Homo sapiens: one gene and its partners. The protein of the gene in region 3 purifies or fractionates together with the protein of the main gene of each other region. This does not show direct contact. Each region holds a gene or a part of one and is shown on either strand. Other genes may lie near its edges. The genes, in order: TRIM22, VPS33A and PLEKHM1.

The links.
Region 1: the proteins of PLEKHM1 (region 3) and TRIM22 purify together in Homo sapiens (affinity purification with western blotting; 2 studies listed by BioGRID). This does not show direct contact.
Region 2: the proteins of PLEKHM1 (region 3) and VPS33A purify together in Homo sapiens (affinity purification with western blotting; 3 studies listed by BioGRID and IntAct, with this or other methods). This does not show direct contact.

What each region holds. Positions count from the first base shown.
Region 1 is NC_000011.10:5,706,790-5,711,484, forward strand, and holds the end of TRIM22 (E3 ubiquitin-protein ligase TRIM22), read left to right. Parts: intron 1-1,383; coding exon 1,384-1,484; intron 1,485-1,787; coding exon 1,788-1,814; intron 1,815-2,263; coding exon 2,264-2,859; 3' UTR 2,860-4,074; downstream 4,075-4,695. UniProt on the Homo sapiens protein: Interferon-induced E3 ubiquitin ligase that plays important roles in innate and adaptive immunity.
Region 2 is NC_000012.12:122,228,944-122,235,495, forward strand, and holds the end of VPS33A (vacuolar protein sorting-associated protein 33A), read right to left. Parts: intron 4,026-6,552; coding exon 3,857-4,025; intron 3,485-3,856; coding exon 3,303-3,484; 3' UTR 621-3,302; downstream 1-620.
Region 3 is NC_000017.11:45,473,610-45,480,730, reverse strand, and holds part of PLEKHM1 (pleckstrin homology domain-containing family M member 1), read left to right. Parts: intron 1-1,642; exon of another isoform or gene 1,643-1,689; intron 1,690-2,583; coding exon 2,584-2,831; intron 2,832-2,843; exon of another isoform or gene 2,844-3,093; intron 3,094-4,817; exon of another isoform or gene 4,818-4,843; intron 4,844-5,004; coding exon 5,005-5,631; intron 5,632-7,121. UniProt on the Homo sapiens protein: Acts as a multivalent adapter protein that regulates Rab7-dependent and HOPS complex-dependent fusion events in the endolysosomal system and couples autophagic and the endocytic trafficking pathways.

The DNA of each region.
Region 1 (4,695 bases), on a different chromosome or scaffold from region 3:
GTGTTGGGAGATCACAGAGTTAGGGTCGACGGAGGCCTTAGGAATAAGAGTTTGCAATATCAGAACCCCATGACTTCACTCACTTTATTCAAACCTCTGTCTCTGTTGTTTCCATATTGCATAGATGCCTGTCTTATTGCAGTGAGGCTCTGCCCTTTTTATATGCCAGACTCCAAATTTTTCAGAGACAGCGCCTTTATGTTTGTTTTCCTCCCTGAGAATAAAATAAACAATAACTTTCTAGGTGGTGCTTTTTAGATTTCTAGAAAAATAGATTCAAGTCTTGAGGAATAGTGGCTTTGGTCCTGGTGCTAGCATAACCTTTTCTTGCTCACATACTTTACCGTCTTGTAGGAAAAAATAATATTCTTGTGTCTAAAGTTGCCCACCTACTTGGCAACATCAAAGTTTTTTTAAACACATGAAAATCAGACCACTATTAATTAATTTAGTCATCGTAATTTGTCTTTCCCCAAATAACTTGAAACCTCAGACATTATTCTCTAGGTCTCATATTGGGATAACAGATTTTGGAAACCCTTTAGCTCTTCAATATAGGATCCTACTTTGATATCTCTCAACAACTCAGGAGACAGATTCTATGGCCTCCTTAATGACCACCTGTCTAGGAACCCACATCTCTGGCCTCTTCCTGGTGGACCCACTGAGATGGCAATGACTTTTCTAAATATTAAATAAGTTTTTTAGAGGCACTGAATATCTTTTAAAAGCATTATTGGCTGGGTGCAGTGGGTCACGCCTACAATGCTAGCACTTTGGGAAGCCGAGGCAGGCGGATCACTTGAGGTCAGAAGTTCAAAACCAGCCTGGCCAACATGGTGAAACCCTGTCTCTACTAAAAGTACAAAAAAATTAGCTGGATGTGGTAGCAGGCACCTGTAATCCCAGCTACTTGGGAGGCTGAGGCAGGAGAATGGCTTGAACCTGGGAGGCAGAGGTTGCAGTGAGCCGAGGTCGCGCCACTACACTCCAGCCTGGATAACAGAGTGAGACCCCATCTCAAAACAAACAAACAAACAAACAAACAAAAGCATTATTATTTTATCTAATTTTATATTCATTTTTAAGAGGTAGAAAGCATGGGGTTAATTATTGCATTTTAAAAGTAAGAAAGCGAACATCGTTGAAGTGAAGACCTTCCCAAGATTACACAGAGGGGAAGACCTTCCCAAGATTACACACAGACAGGTAGACATGAGCACATTTCTCTGGACTCCAGTGTCAGGCATCTCCCCTCTACTGTCCTCAGGGAAGAGGGTCCAAGTGCGTCAGCAAGTATGGTGAAAGGTGAAAGAGACAGTGATCTTGGATGGAGAGAAATAGGGCAAAGGTGTAAAGGTTATCAATTTTTGTTATCACTAGGAGTGAAAGCTGGACATTGAAGAAGCCAAAATCTGTTTCCAAGAAACTAAAGAGTGTATTCCGAGTACCAGATCTGAGTGGGATGCTGCAAGTTCTTAAAGGTAAGGGGATTCAGGGGAAGGCTGTGAATGTGGATTTCTTAGTATCAGGGCTCAATAGGGAAGCGGGAGGTTTTTTTAGGTTAGGATATAGGAGAGGAGGTGGGCCAGAGAAGGAGGAAAATCCTGTGCTGTAGATGTGGTCCTGTCTTAGGGGGAATGACCAGGTGTCTGATTCATCCTCTCATTCACCAGTGCAAAGAATCCCAGTATTCCCCCTTTCCTTTCCCTACTCTGGAGAAGAGACAGGTGTCAGTACTTACTTATTTGCTTCTAACAACATCACTGAAACTTTTGTCGTTTCAGAGCTGACAGATGTCCAGTACTACTGGGGTAAGATGATATGGGGTTTTCAAATCACTTCCTTTCAGAATTGTGGTTACTATTAGATCTCATAATCTGAGTCTCATGTGTTCCTCCCCAAACATGCTTAAACCATGTAGTTCTTTTTTTTTTTTTTTTTAAGATAGATTTTTGCTATTGTTGCCCAGGCTGGAGTGCAATGGCGCGGTCTCGGCTCACTGCAACCTCTGCCTCCTGGGTTCAAGCGATTCTGCTGCCTCAGCCTCCCAAGTAGCTGGGATTACAGGCGTGTGCCACCACGCTTGGCTAATTTTTATAGTCTTACACCCTGTATTTCTTAAGGGTCCTACTAACCTCTGACTATCAACACAAGTTCCGTTTGATATCGACACAAGTTTCATTTTCAATATGTCTCTTCTCAATGCTGTAAGACACACCTATCCCATATCCTTCACTTGACTTGGTAATTTTTTCTACAGTGGACGTGATGCTGAATCCAGGCAGTGCCACTTCGAATGTTGCTATTTCTGTGGATCAGAGACAAGTGAAAACTGTACGCACCTGCACATTTAAGAATTCAAATCCATGTGATTTTTCTGCTTTTGGTGTCTTCGGCTGCCAATATTTCTCTTCGGGGAAATATTACTGGGAAGTAGATGTGTCTGGAAAGATTGCCTGGATCCTGGGCGTACACAGTAAAATAAGTAGTCTGAATAAAAGGAAGAGCTCTGGGTTTGCTTTTGATCCAAGTGTAAATTATTCAAAAGTTTACTCCAGATATAGACCTCAATATGGCTACTGGGTTATAGGATTACAGAATACATGTGAATATAATGCTTTTGAGGACTCCTCCTCTTCTGATCCCAAGGTTTTGACTCTCTTTATGGCTGTGCCTCCCTGTCGTATTGGGGTTTTCCTAGACTATGAGGCAGGCATTGTCTCATTTTTCAATGTCACAAACCACGGAGCACTCATCTACAAGTTCTCTGGATGTCGCTTTTCTCGACCTGCTTATCCGTATTTCAATCCTTGGAACTGCCTAGTCCCCATGACTGTGTGCCCACCGAGCTCCTGAGTGTTCTCATTCCTTTACCCACTTCTGCATAGTAGCCCTTGTGCTGAGACTCAGATTCTGCACCTGAGTTCATCTCTACTGAGACCATCTCTTCCTTTCTTTCCCCTTCTTTTACTTAGAATGTCTTTGTATTCATTTGCTAGGGCTTCCATAGCAAAGCATCATAGATTGCTGATTTAAACTGTAATTGTATTGCCGTACTGTGGGCTGGAAATCCCAAATCTAGATTCCAGCAGAGTTGGTTCTTTCTGAGGTCTGCAAGGAAGGGCTCTGTTCCATGCCTCTCTCCTTGGCTTGTAGAAGGCATCTTGTCCCTATGACTCTTCACATTGTCTTTATGTACATCTCTGTGCCCAAGTTTTCCCTTTTTATTAAGACACCAGTCATACTGGCTCAGGGCCCACCGCTAATGCCTTAATGAAATCATTTTAACATTATATTCTCTACAAAGACCTTATTTCCAAATAAGATAATATTTGGAGGTATTGGGAATAAAAACTCCAACATATAAATTTGAGGAAGGCACGATTTCACTCATAACAATCTTACCCTTTCTTGCAAGAGATGCTTGTACATTATTTTCCTAATACCTTGGTTTCACTAGTAGTAAACATTATTATTTTTTTTATATTTGCAAAGGAAACATATCTAATCCTTCCTATAGAAAGAACAGTATTGCTGTAATTCCTTTTCTTTTCTTCCTCATTTCCTCTGCCCCTTAAAAGATTGAAGAAAGAGAAACTTGTCAACTCATATCCACGTTATCTAGCAAAGTACATAAGAATCTATCACTAAGTAATGTATCCTTCAGAATGTGTTGGTTTACCAGTGACACCCCATATTCATCACAAAATTAAAGCAAGAAGTCCATAGTAATTTATTTGCTAATAGTGGATTTTTAATGCTCAGAGTTTCTGAGGTCAAATTTTATCTTTTCACTTACAAGCTCTATGATCTTAAATAATTTACTTAATGTATTTTGGTGTATTTTCCTCAAATTAATATTGGTGTTCAAGACTATATCTAATTCCTCTGATCACTTTGAGAAACAAACTTTTATTAAATGTAAGGCACTTTTCTATGAATTTTAAATATAAAAATAAATATTGTTCTGATTATTACTGAAAAGATGTCAGCCATTTCAATGTCTTGGGAAACAATTTTTTGTTTTTGTTCTGTTTTCTTTTTGCTTCAATAAAACAATAGCTGGCTCTACTGAAGTCTCATTCTTCAGTTTCCAAAATCTTGCTGCAGATAATATGAGTTTCCATATGTCCAGTAAAGAAGGTCATGTCTAGGCTCAGCTGTCCTTGATAAGAGACAGCCTTATGCTGTTCAGATCTGTTTCTCGTAATGAAACACTTGTGTGTACCATTGCATTTACCATCCTAGGTACTTTTCTTTTTTTTTTTTTTTAAGTCTTTTTTCAAACACAGGATGAGTAGTAGAACTACCTAGGATAGCAAAGACACAAAACATTCTTGAAGAAATATATTGTATTAGTCGGGGTTCTCCAGAGAAACAGAACAATAAGAGATATGTATTTATTATGAGGAATTGGCTTACTTGATTATGGAGGCTAAGACTTCCCATTATCTGCCATTTGGAAACCAGAGACCCAAAAGCTGGTGATATAAGTCAGTGTGTCTCTGAAGCCCTAAGAACCAGGGAGCTGATGGTATAAATGCCAGTACAAAGGCAGAAAAAGATGAGGTGACATGTCTCAGCTCAAGTACTGCGGCAGGAAAAGAAGCAAATATCTTCTTCCTCAACCCTTTCTCCTACTCAGATCCTTTATGGATTAGATGATGTCCAGCAACTTGGGGGAGGGCAAGC
Region 2 (6,552 bases), on a different chromosome or scaffold from region 3:
TGAGGCAGGAGGGCTGCTTAAAGCTAGGAGTTCGAGACCACCCTAGCCAACAGAAAATTAAAAAGATAATAAATTTAATGAAAAAGAAAAAAAGAATTATTTCTCTTGAGGCCAGGAGTTTGAGCAACAAAGACCCTGTCTCTAAAAGGAAGAAAAAAAAATTGCTGGGTGTGGTGGTGCTTTGCTATAGTCCCAGCTACTCGTGAGACTGAGGCAGGAGGACTGCTTGAGCCCAGAAGTTCAAGGCTGTGGTGAGCTATGATTGTGCCACTGCACTCCAGCCTGGGCAACAGAATAAGACCTCATCTCAAAAAAATAATTTCTTCTTGAATTAAACTCTGCTCAATACAAACACTTCCTCCTGGTGACAGGCTGGTCTTTAGTGTACAACTGAGAACAAGACCGACCAACACATCATGCTTAATCATAATCCATTTGCAGTGAGGGCAGATCTGAATCGAATAGAACTCACAATGAGACTGTCCCAGTTTTCTCTGAGAATTAAATGTGCTGTTTTAAATCATCCCTCTTTCAACCATTACTCTTTTGCTCCACAATTAACAAAATACTTAATTCTCTGTTGGTTAGAATTCAACACTCTATAGCAAGACACAAAACAGTGTCTGTGTAGACTTCTTTATTAAGGGGGCTGCTGGTGTAGAACTGTCTACCCAACTAGACAAAAGTCCAGACATGATGTAAACAATCCACTCTCCCCAACAATAAATGTACCGTTCACATATCCTTTCTCAGTAAGGGCATACTCTTTTGAGACAAAGACTGCTTCAAGTATTAAATGAACTTACACAAAGGCGTATAATATATAATTATCTACCATTTTCTATTTGCATACAAATGAAGCAATTGAAGTTTTTCAGTCTTCTGCTGAATGCATTTTTAGGAGCTGCCCTAACTATGCTCTGAGCAAGCAAGTATATAGAGTCTTGGGTGAGTGCAGACACATGAGACTACAACTGAGTATCTGTTCCCAGGACAGAATCCCCAGCCAGGGAGACTTGACCAGACTTGAATTGAGCCCCAGGAACCAAAAAATGGAGGGGCAGGGTGGATTCCATTCTCTAAAGCAGCTGATGACTGCCTGAGGTGGAAGGTATAAACTAATCTCCCTGGGATATAACAAGTATTTAAAAAAGGATTTTCTACAATGAAAATGGTTTTCTTTAAGACATTTCCAAATACTGAATATCAAGGCCAAATTAATTCCATGAGAAACTAATCTTTCAATTATTATCTCTGCCACTCTTCATTCTTTCATTAAAGAGATTTTTAAAAAAGTATACAGAATTTCTCTTTCATTAATAATATTTACCGTGCCCATCAGAACTCCACTAATGGGCCGGGCACGGTGGTTCACACCTGTAATCCCAGCACTTTGGGAGGCCGAGGTGGGCCAATCGCCTGAGGTCAGGAGTTTGAGACCAGCCTGGCCAATATGGTGAAACCCCATCTCTACTAAAAATACAAAAATTAGCCAGGTGTGGTGGTGCACATCTGTAATCCCAGCTACTCAGGAGGCTGAGGCATGAGAATCGTCTGAACCCGGGAAGTGGAGGTTGCAGTGAGCTGACATCGCACCACTGCACTCCAGTCTGAAAAGAGCGTGAGACTCTGTCTCAAACAAACAAAAACAAAACAAAACAAAAACCTCCACTAATGAAAAAGGTGGGGAAAAACAATGTGTGGTTACTAATCAACAACCAAAATCACACCTGGCTGGGACCCAGCAAAGCAGGGGACCAGCTAGTTTTGCTGGAGGCTTGGGCAAGGGCAGCAAAACTGCCAACCTGACTTGGTGCCCTTGGTGCCTTAACTCCTCCAGAAGCTAAGATGGAGGAGCAGAGGGGCAGAGAACACACGGATTTTCAACTTCTCCTCCAACACCCCTGCCCCCCACCACAGCCTGACAGTCTCCTGCAGGAGTAGCAGCAGCTGTGGCTGCTGGTCTCCAAGATCATCAAGAGATACACCTGGAGAAGGCTGAGGTCACCAGAGAGGGGGCTGAAACAGTGTTTTCAGCTGAGTACGGAGTGGCCACAGACTGCTAGAAAAGTACACGTGGCAGTTACCATGGAAACGAAGTGGCCAGATGCTGAAGAAGCAAGAGTTGCCCCTGCTCACTGTGGGACCAGTTGGATGTTGGGCCCTTGATGGACAGAAGAGAAAACGGAAACCTCAATGGAGGCACCCACCACTGCTGTGTCTGGAGTTAACGTGTGTGCTAAGAAACTGTCTTTGAATTACTTCAAAGGCTGAATTCTCAGAAGGTTGCTCCCCAATTATCACATTCTTCCATGTCAAAAGCCCCTGATAAGTATGGAACCTAAGGAGATGTAGCTGATCACATAGAGCATAAACTTTGTTTCTGGGCAAGAAGCTCCCCTAAACCTCTTGCTTTGTAAGAAGTAGAAGGAAGCAAACTTGCCTTAGTGATCAGTTGCGACAGTGACTGATGACCCTAAATATAATCTCCCACACTCTGCAGGAAAAAGAAATCTCAACTCAGTGATAAAATGATCTCCAGCTCCCAACACTTAACCACTGTCCTAGGCCTGATGCGCCTTGAAGAAATACAGCACTGGGGATTAGAGGATGAACTTTCTCTTTTTATTTTCAGTTTCACCTCCTCAGTCTCAGCTTTCTTATTTTAAGAGCTGGCCCCGTTTGTCTGGCTGAATGGATTATCTACCCCCACCATCCTTAATGTATTTCCAGAGGTCTCTAATGAAGACCCTGAGCTTAGAAAACTCAAAACCAGTGCTGCTTTTACTCAGGTTGATTTTCTTCTATTCTTCTTTCTTCAGCAGATTAGGGGCCAGGCACGGTGGCTCAGGCCTGTAATCCCAGCACTGTGGGAGGCCGAGGCAGGTGGATCACCTGAGGTCAGGAGTTTGAGACCAGCCTGGCCAACATGGTGAAACACCATGGCTACTAAAAATACAAAAATTAGCCGGGTGTGGTGGTGCATGCCTGTAGTCCCAGCTACTCAGGAGGCTGAGGCAGGAGAATTGCTTGAACCTAGGAGGTGGAGGTTGCAGTGAGGTGAGACCGTGCCACTGCACTCTAGTCTGGGTGACAGAGCAAGACTCCGTCTCAAAGGAAAAAAAAAAAGGGAATACAAAAGAGACGGAGAAAGCAGTAAACAGTAGTATAATTTAAGAAGCTGACCCCAGAATATATTCTGTATTCCCATGTTTCTTCTATGGGGTTTTACTTCCTTTCAGCAATTTCTTCAAAGAGGTAGTTTATTCTGCAGTACACTTGTTAAGTCTCCTCTGAACATCCTAGAAAGGTTTTTCCATCAGAGCCTCTATCCAACTGGTTCCATTCATTAGTTTAGTGGTGGCAATGACATATTCTGTACCTCCATCTTCCAACTGGGAGAGAAATCGCAGGGCAGCAATTTCAGCGAAGGTTACGCCCCCAAGGAAAAATATCAGAGTCACTCGGTTTTCTCCCGGTTGACCTAAAATTTAAACATTTCAGAATTAAAAACTATTTATTATTAATGCTTCTCTTCCCACCTCTTCAAACATTTTATCATTCATAAGAATAAACAAGTGCCTTCATCCAGACAGTTCATCTGAAACCTAAGAATACTGATTTTGATCTCAACATTTTTTTTTAACTTCTGAGATTCTCAACACAGAAGTTGAAAGCTGCTATCCCTCAGGGAATAATCCGATTCGAGTTCTTACTACATACATTAGCAACGAACAAAAGAGGTGTATTTAATTCTGACTCCTAAGTGCTTTACTATTTTACAAAGCAACTGTACAATACCTGAAAACCACACTAACAGTACATAATTATCTGTAGATGCTGGACTGGGACTTACGTTTCTTCTGCAGTCCTGTGGGCAGTGGCTGCCGCTCCTCAAAGTGGGGCCCTGGGAGGATGCGGAGGACCTCCTCGATGCTCCGCCAGCCAGGCCGGGAAAGCAGCTGGGCCAGCCGCACACTGAGCGGGGCATACCCACTGTACACATACGATATGTCCGTGGGGTTCTGTGAGATAATTAAAGAACAAAAACCCTATAGATACAGAGACTTAGAGCTACCTGACTGTGGCCTTTTGGGTAATCCAAAATTATTTGATTTGGATTTAAAGATATACAACCCCCACCCCTGCCATGCCTTGTTCTAATCCACCCTAGCTGGGCTCAATTTTTAGCAGCCAGAGCTTCAATTTTGACTGAAATCTTGAAAAGCCACTCAAAGCAGCTCTAGGTACAGAAGATGAAGAATTATTTGGTTTGGCATGAAACTTTTTTTTTTTTTTTGAGACAGAGTCTGGCTCTGTCACCCAGGCTGGAGTGCAGTGGCATAATTTCAGCTCACTGCAACCTCCGCCTCCCTAGTTCAAGCAATTCTCCTGCCTCAGGCTCCCAAAGAGCTGGGATTACAGGTGTGCACCACCACTCCTGGCTCATTGTTGTATTTTTAGTAGAGACAGGGTTTCACCATGTTGGCCAGGCTGGTCTTGAATTTCTGACCTCAGGTGATCCACCTGCCTCGGCCTCCCAAAGTGTTGGGATTACAGGCCTGAGCCACCGCGTCCAGCCAGCATGAAACATATTGGGGGGAACTTGGCACTCCCTAGCTGAGCAATGATGTGCAATAACCTTTGAACTTAGCAATTCTACTTTTAGGCATTAATCCTACAGAGGTGCTTGCAGAACAAAAGATAATAGACCAAAGTATAAACGTATTAACTGCAACACTGCATGTAACAGTAAAGACTGGAAACAACCTGAATTTCTATCAATAGCAATCTGTTAAATCATTAAATAAGGTATAGCCTCAAAACCACTATGTAGCAATTTAGAAAAATTAAAAAGAAGGGGAAGATCACAGAAGACCCTTCAAGATCCTTTGTTAAGTGGTGGGTGGGTCCAGAGTCAGAAAGGTCAGAACAGTGAAGACAGCTGAACTAATATGTACATGATAGACTCTAGACATTAAGGGTCTCTATTTTCCCACCGGGAAAAAATCATTTAATTTTGCTCCTGACAGAGGAGACTGTCTAGTTATGAGCTTTTGTTGCAAGAGGCGGCCTAATAAAGTTCCTTATGAAAAACCAAAAAAGACTGAAATTTAGAAACATTAGAATAAGTAATAAATGTAAAGCAAAGTGCACCCCACTTTGGAGACCAACAGTAGAGAATATGCACTCTTTATGTAAAAATGTATATGCACAGAATCTTTCTGGAAGGATAGATAAAAAACTGGCCACAGTGGCTGCCTCTGAGGGGAAACTGTGGAAGGAAACTCACTTGGCCCTGATGGCCCTGCTTTTGCATAGCTTTTTTTTTCCCTTTTTCTTTTTCTTTTTGAGATAGGGTCTCATTCTGTCGCCCATGCTGGAGTGCAGCAGTGCAATCTCAGCTCACTGTAGCCTCAACCTCCCAGGCTCAGCCTCCTGGGAGGCTCCCACCTCAGCCTTCTGAGTACAGTAGCTGGGCCTACAGATGCATGCTCCACCATGCCCTGATCACTTTTGTATTTTTTAGTAGAGACAGGGTTTCACCATGTTGGCCAGGCTGGTCTTGAACTCCTGACCTCAAGTGATCCTCCTGCCTTGGCCTCCCAAAGTGCTGGAATTACAGGTGTGAGCCACCGCGCCTGGCCATGGCTGGCTTGTTTATGAGTGCTGGACATCTCCACTGACTCCTCTAGACACTCTCCACCCTTCTCCGCAATGCTCTGTGCCCGGAGATGGACCTGTGCGTCCCACACCAACACACTCCAATGCCTTCTCTTTGGGTCTGACCAAGACAAAGCACCAGAGTGAACTGGAGAGTGGGCAGCAGTGTGAGGATGACGTTGTCACTGGCCAGCTTCCTCTGCTGGAGGTTGACCATACCCTCAGCCAGAGGCCCCTCACCCCTTACCTCACCAGATGGCCTCACCACAGCTCTTCTCTCCAGGTTCTAAGACAAGTTTCTAGAACACCCCCCTCTCCTTGTCCTTCAGGCCGTGGCTGGCAAGGGCTCCCCACTGCACTGCCTCTCCACTCTTCCCACATCTTTATTTATTTGAGACAGAGTCTTACTGTGTAGCCCAGCCTGGAGTGCAGTGGCACAAACATGGTTCACTGCAACCGCCTCCTGGGCTCAGTGATCCTCTAACCACAGCCCCTCGGACTAAAGGCTCATACTACCACTGGCCATTTTTTTTGTAGAGACAAGGTTTTGCCATGTTGCCCAGGCTGGTCTCGAACTCCTGGACTCAAGCGATCTGACCCTTCAGCCTCCCAATATACTGGGATTACAAGAATGAGCCACCGAGCCTGCCCCATAACTTTTTTTTTTTTTTTTTTGAGACAGAGTCTTGCTCTGTCGCCCAGGCTGGAGTGCAATGGCATGATCTGAGCTCACTACAACCTCCGCCTCCCAGGTTCAAGCAATTCTCCTGCCTCAGCCCCCCAAGTAGATGGGATTACAGGCACGCACCACAATGCTGGGCTAATTTTTGTATTTTTAGTAGAGATGGGGTTTCCCATGTTAGTCAGGCTGTTCTCAAACTCCTGAGC
Region 3 (7,121 bases):
TGATGGAAAATATGCTAAGTGAAATAAGTCAGATTCAAAGGGTCATATGCTGTATTGATATCTATTCATGTGAGATGTACAAAATATGCAAAGCCACAGAAACAGAAAATAGATTAGTGACTGCATTCACTTCGTATTCCCCTTTCTCCCAGCCCCTGGCAATCACTAATATACAGTATTTCTTTTTGGGGTGATGAAAATCGTTTTTTTTGTTTGTTTTTTTGTTTTTTTGTTTTTTTGTTTTTTTGAGACGGAGTCTCCCTCTGCTGCCCAGGCTGGAGTGCAGTGGCACAATCTTGACTCACTACAAACTCCACCTCCCAGGTTCAAGTGATTCTCATGCCTCTGCCTCCCAAGTAGCTGGGATTATGGGTGTGCACCACCATGCCCGGCTAATTTTTGTATTTTTGGTAGAGATGGGGGTTTCACCATGTTGGCCAGGCTGGTCTCGAACTCCTGACCTCAGGTGATCCACTCGTCTTGGCCTCCCGAAGTGCTGGGATTATAGGCGTGAGCCACTGTGCCCGGCCAGAAAATCTTCTAAAATTAGGTAGTGGTGATGGTTGCACAATTGTGTGAATATACTAGAAACAATTGAACTGTATACTTTAAATGGGTGTATTTTATGGTATATGAATTATATCTCATTAAAACCGTTATATTTTTTCAAATTTAACTTTTCAAAGAATGTTAACATTTAGTGTTTTGGCTGAAATCAAAATAAAAGATTAAAATATGTAGCCATAATCCTATCACCCAACAATTCAAACCAGTTTTTCTGTAATCCCTTCCAGTCCTTTTCCAATCACTTATGTGATTTTCACATGCTTATAATTATGCTCAATTTTTACTCTATATTTCCAAAAGACTCTATGTACATTTTGTGGTGTATCATTTAACAAACATTTATTGAGTATTTCTATGTGCCAGGCACAGTGCCAAGTGTTGACACAAGGATGAATAAAACACTAGTCTTAGTGCCACACTCAGCTCTTTTATATATATGTTTTTTGTTTTGTTTTGTTTTGTTTTGTTTTGTTTTTCTGAGATGGAGTCTCACTCTGCCACCCAGGCTGGAATGCAGTGGCACGATTTTGGCTCAGTACAACCTCTGCCTCCTGGGTTTAAGTGATTCTCCTGCCTCAGCCTCCTAAGTAGCTGGGATTACAGGCACTCACCACCACACCTGGCTATTTTTTTTTTTTTTTTTTTTGAGGCGGAGTCTCGCTCTGTCGCCCAGGCTGGAGTGCAGTGGTGCGATCTTGGCTCACTGGAAACTCCGCCTCCTGAGTTCACGCCATTCTCCTGCCTCAGCCTCCCGCGTAGCTGGGACTACAGGCGCTGCCACCACGCCCAGCTATTTTTTTGCATTTTTAGTAGAGATGGGGTTTCAGCCTGTTATCCAGGATGGTCTCGATCTTCTGACCTCGTGATCCGCCCACCTCGGCCTCCCAAAGTGCTGGGGTTACAGGCGTGAGCCACCGTGCCCGGCCCACACCTGGCTAATTTTTGCATTTTTAGTAGAGACAGGGTTTCATCATGTTTGCCAGGCTGATCTCAAACTCCTAACCTCAAGTGATCCGCCTGCCTTGGCCTCCCAAAGTGTTGGGATTACAGGTGTGAGCCACCACACCCAGCCTCTTTTTAGAATTTATCTAGTAGGTTTTCTGGTTTTCACCAGAAACCACTTCCCAAAAAAAAAAAGAAAAAAAAAGGTAGTCCTGTCCTCAGGAGAATCCTCATAGTACTATAAATCAGAAAGTATTATTTCCACTTTAACAGATAAGGAAATTGAGGCTCAAAGCGGTTAAGTGGAATGTCTGAGGAGGCCCATCTGGTTACTGGCAGCTAGGACTGAGCCTAGTCCTCTGGCTTCCAGGCCTAGGATCTTTCTTTTTTTGAGACAAGGTCTTGCTATGTTGCCCAGGCTGGAGTACAGTGGTGTGATCACAGCTCACTGCAGCCTTGAACTCCTGGACTCAAGCAGTCCTCCTGCCTCTGACCTCCCAAAGTTCTGGGATTACAGGTTTGAGCCACCACGCCCAGCCTAGGATCTTTCTTAAAGTAAACCATGCTCCTGTTCTCCTCATGTTTTTATTGTTCTAAAGCAGTGTGGGTGTTTATTGTTTGTTTGTTTTTGCCTCTTGGCTTATTGATTCTCTACAGAAGCTTGTCCATGTAAAAAAGGTGGGAAGCCCCACCCTTGTCCTAGATGGATTTACCCAAGCTCCCATCACTGCAGCTATGATGGGGCCAATATTTAAACACAAGATTATATGGCTCTAAGTTCACTTAAGTTTGGTCTAAAAAACAAAAAGTATCTATACTAAAGGACATATGAAACAAACAATAACAGTAATTATCTCTGGGTAGTGTGTGTGATTTTCCTTTTCTTCTCTATGCTTTATCTTTCTTTGCTGTAGTTAACAATGTGCTAATTTTGCAGAAGGAATCTACAGACACACACATAGATGTGTGTGCATGTGGTTGCACACGTATTTGGCACCAGCTAAAGGATTACACTCTAGGGACTCTCCATAGGATTTTCCGCTAAAGGCCTGTGTTCTGTGTGGTGCTGCCTAGGTCATCAAGAAGAAGCTGGTGGGATCCGTGAAGGCCTTGCAGAAGCAGTACGTGTCCCTGGACACGGTGGTCACTAGTGAAGACGGAGATGCCAACACCATGTGCAGCGCCCTGGAGGCCGTATTTATCCATGGCCTGCACGCCAAGCACATCCGAGCTGAGGCCGGAGGAAAAAGGAAGAAAAGTGCCCACCAGAAGCCTCTGCCCCAGCCTGTCTTCTGGCCCCTCCTGAAAGCTGTCACCCACAAGTGAGATTTAGCTGGAGAGGTTTTGCTTTGCGGAGGAGCAGCAGACTATGGGACACTTGGCTTTTCCTCCCCAGCTGTTCAGGAAGCCAACAGAGGTGCCCTGTGTTCTAGCATAGAGAGAGGGTGAGGTAGGGGTTGAAAGTGTCTTCTAGAAAGGCTTATCTCTAGACCAAGCTTCCCAGCCAGTGTGCCAGCAGATCTTGAGACCCTCAGCACTCAGGCAAGAGCCTGTGGCTGCTTTGAGACTGGTCACAAAAAGCAGGTGAGACTGGCCACCTTTAGCAGGAACAGCCTTTTTTGCCACACTGGGGCAGAGTTACATAGTTACAACAGAGGTTGTGTGGCCTGCAAAGCCTGAAGAATATACTATCTGGCCCTTTACAGAAGGGCTGACCCTGCCTTGGATTTGCTGACCCTGCCTTAGATTATTCAAACATCCGAATTGTAAATCTTTTTTTTTTTTTTTGGGATGGAGTTTCGCTCTGTCACTCAGGCTGGAGTGCAATGGCGCGATCTCGGTTCACTGGCACCTCTGCTTCCCAGGTTCAAGCAATTCTCCTGCCTCAGCCTCCTGAGTAACTGGGACAACAGGCGCGCACCATCACGCCCAGCTAATTTTTGTATTTTTAGTAGAGAGGGGTTTTGCTATGTTGGTCAGGCTGCTCTCAAACTCCTGACCTTGTGATCTGCCTACCTCCGCCTCCCAAAGTGCTGGGATTATATAAAGAGTGGAATCAGGAAAAGCATATGAATATTCACCCTGAGACACTTATCTCTTTGGCCCCTAACTGTCTGGGCTTTTGAGCAAGTAGCTGGCACTGTGCCTCTGAGGACTACTAAATGCCACCTTCAGCCCAAAAGAAGCCTTGTCAGTCTCTAATCTTCCTTTCCATGCAGATTGCCACTGCCTTGTCTCACGTTCTTCTTTCCTGGGTGACACTGGCTTTCTATTTGTCCCCCTTATCTCACTCTGTCTTTCCTTGAGTCCATCATCTGGTCAACATTTACTGAGCTGAAGCTCCCTGGAGCTTACTCACTGAGCCTAGTAGAGTGCGGTCTACATTCCCATGGAGGAGATAAACCTGCGCTAGGGACTGTGGTAGCTCAGAGGGGCATGTACATCAGACGGAGGCATTCTGGGACTGAGTTTGGTACACCTGGGGTCTGATCTCCTTATGCAGAACATCTACCCTGCAGTCTGCATGACTGTGGTCAAGTCACTTTTCTAAACAAAAATCTGTAGCCTACAGGCTCCCAGATGCTAGCCTGGAGACTGATTCACTAGGTTGGGGTCCCAGAACTTGTATCCTGCTCAAGTTCCCCAGGGGGTTCTGGTGCACAGCTGGGTGTGGGGCCATTACCCCGTGTTGCCTTATTGATTTGATATTTAAGACCCTCTCTTTCCTGGCCTTGCAACCAAACCACCCACTTTTCCGCCACATGCTGTAATTGGAGCGCTCCCCAATCCTCTTACAGGGTTGTTGATTTCCTACACTTTATGCCTTTTTCCATCAGTCCCTTGTGCCTGAGGGCAGGGACCATGTCTTTACCCTGCATCTTCATTGCTCCAAGGACTTTGCACTTAAGGAGCTCTGACAGCATGCCTTAGATGAGCAGATGTGTCAGGGGCCCCGTGGTAGTTGGAATGAACATGGAAATTATCTTTCACAATTCCAATCTCAAAATATATATATATATATAATGTATAAATATATATAATTTATATTTATATATTTATTATATATAAATATAAATATATATATATATATTGCCTAGGCTGGAGTGCAGTGGTCCAATCTCCGCTCACTGTGACCTTTGCTTCCCAGGCTCAAGCTATCCTTCCACCTCAACCTCCCGAGTAGCTGGGTAGCTGGGACTACACGTGCAAGCCACCACATCTGGCTATGTTGTTGTTGTAGAGACAGAGTTTCGTCCTGTTGCCCAGGCTGGTCACGAATTCCTGAGCTCAAGTGATCCACCTGCCTTGGCCTCCCAAAGTGCTGGGATTACAGGTGTGAGCCACCACATCTGGCCTAAAACACTATTACCCAATATTTTTTCATGCCTGTATCTATTTGCAGTAGTTATTCCTGGTTCCTGCTAACCAGTGGATAAAAGCACATCTCTGTGATTTGGGGTAGTTTCTTGAAACACGTCTGTTCTCCCTTCCCAGACACATCATCTCAGAGTTGGAGCACCTGACGTTTGTCAACACGGATGTGGGCCGCTGCCGGGCATGGCTGCGGCTGGCCCTGAACGATGGCCTGATGGAGTGCTACCTGAAGCTGCTGCTGCAGGAGCAGGCCCGCTTGCATGAGTACTACCAGCCCACCGCCCTGCTCCGGGATGCTGAGGAGGGCGAGTTCCTCCTTAGCTTCCTGCAGGGCCTCACGTCCTTGTCCTTCGAACTCTCCTACAAGTCTGCCATCTTAAATGAGTGGACGCTCACCCCATTGGCCCTGTCTGGGCTTTGCCCGCTTTCTGAGCTGGACCCTCTCTCTACCTCTGGTGCAGAACTACAGCGGAAGGAATCTCTGGATTCCATTTCCCATTCTTCAGGCTCTGAAGACATCGAAGTCCATCACTCGGGCCATAAGATACGGAGGAACCAGAAGCTGACTGCCTCCTCCCTCAGCCTGGACACGGCCAGTTCATCCCAGCTGTCCTGCAGCCTAAACTCTGATAGCTGCTTACTCCAAGAGAATGGCTCCAAGAGTCCAGACCATTGCGAGGAGCCCATGTCCTGTGACTCAGACCTGGGCACAGCAAATGCTGAGGACTCAGACCGGTCTCTGCAAGAGTGAGTACGCTGCCCCCACTCCTTCCCATCTTCTCTCTTCCCTCCTTTCTTTCCTCTCCTCCTCCCTTTCTTCCCATAGCATGTGATTGTCTGTTACTGAACTCTATTAGTAATTAAAGAAAGCCAAGGGAGTCATCGACTTCTCCAGGGACTGGAGTAGCTGGGAACTGTAGCAGGCAATACAGGCATAGTGGAGAAAGTGGACTTAGAACAGCTTAGAGCTGGTTTGGGCTCCAGCTCTGCCCCGGTGACTTTTAGCAAGTTACTTGGCCGGGTGCGGTGGCTCATGCCTGAAATCCCAGCACTTGGGAGGCTGATACAGGAGGATTGCTTGAGCCCAGCAGTTCGAGGCCAGCCTGGGCAATGTAGCAAGATCCTGCCTCTAAATTAAAAATAAATAAATAAATAAAACAAAAACTGAAAACAAACAATAACAACAAAAAAACAAGATACTTAGTCTCTACAAGGCACAGTGTAAAATATTGTTGTCTTCATCTAGAAGGAAGGAAACTAATAGGTCAGAGTACATTTAAAACGTCCAACAAATAGATGAAACATAACGCATAAGAGTGTGACTTCACAGAATACCTCCTGGGGGACACAGGACCTGAGTGCTGCATGCAGGAGGTGGTGGACAGGTGGGGACAGACAGATGTGTGGAAGAGTATGTGGGGCAGATGAACTAGGCTGAAGAGAGAACTGGGCAGAGCCTTCTTCACACAGCCTTTTAAACATTTTTTTGCAGCTGGGCACGGTGGCTCACGCCTGTAATCCCAGCACCTTGGGAGGCCAAGGCAGGTGGATCACAAGGTCAGGAGATTGAGACCATCCTGACTAACATGGTGAAACCCCGTCTCTACTAAAAATACAAAAAATTAGCTGGGCATGGTGGCGGGCGCCTTGTAGTCCCAGCTACATGGGCGGCTGAGGCAGGAGAATGGCATGAACCCGGGAGGTGGAGCTTGCAGTGAGCTGAGACCGCACCACTGCACTCCAGCCTGGGTGACAGAGTAAGACTCTGTCTCAAAAAAAAAAAATAAATAAATAAATAAAATAAAAAATTTGCATAGATAATCTTTTTATGGTTAAAAAAAATCTAAAACATATACAGTGAAAGCCTTTCCCATTCCTGTTCTCCCTCTACCCTGTTCTTTCCTCCCACCCCTAAAACCATAATAATTTCCTGTATATTCTTCCAAATTTCTAAATGCATCTACAACAAATACCAGTATAAAGATTTTCAGCTGGGCGCAGTGGCTCACGCCTGTAATCCCAGCACTTTGGGAGGCCGAGGCGGGCGGATCACAAAGGCAAGAGATCGAGACCTTTCTGGCTAACACGGTGAAACCCCATCTCTACTAAAAATACAAAAAATTAGCCGGGCGTGGTGGCGGGCGCCTGAAGTCCCAGCTACTCAGGAGGCTGAGGCAGGAGAATGGTGTGGACCCAGGAGGCGGAGCTTGCAGTGAGCCGAGATCGTGCCACTGCAC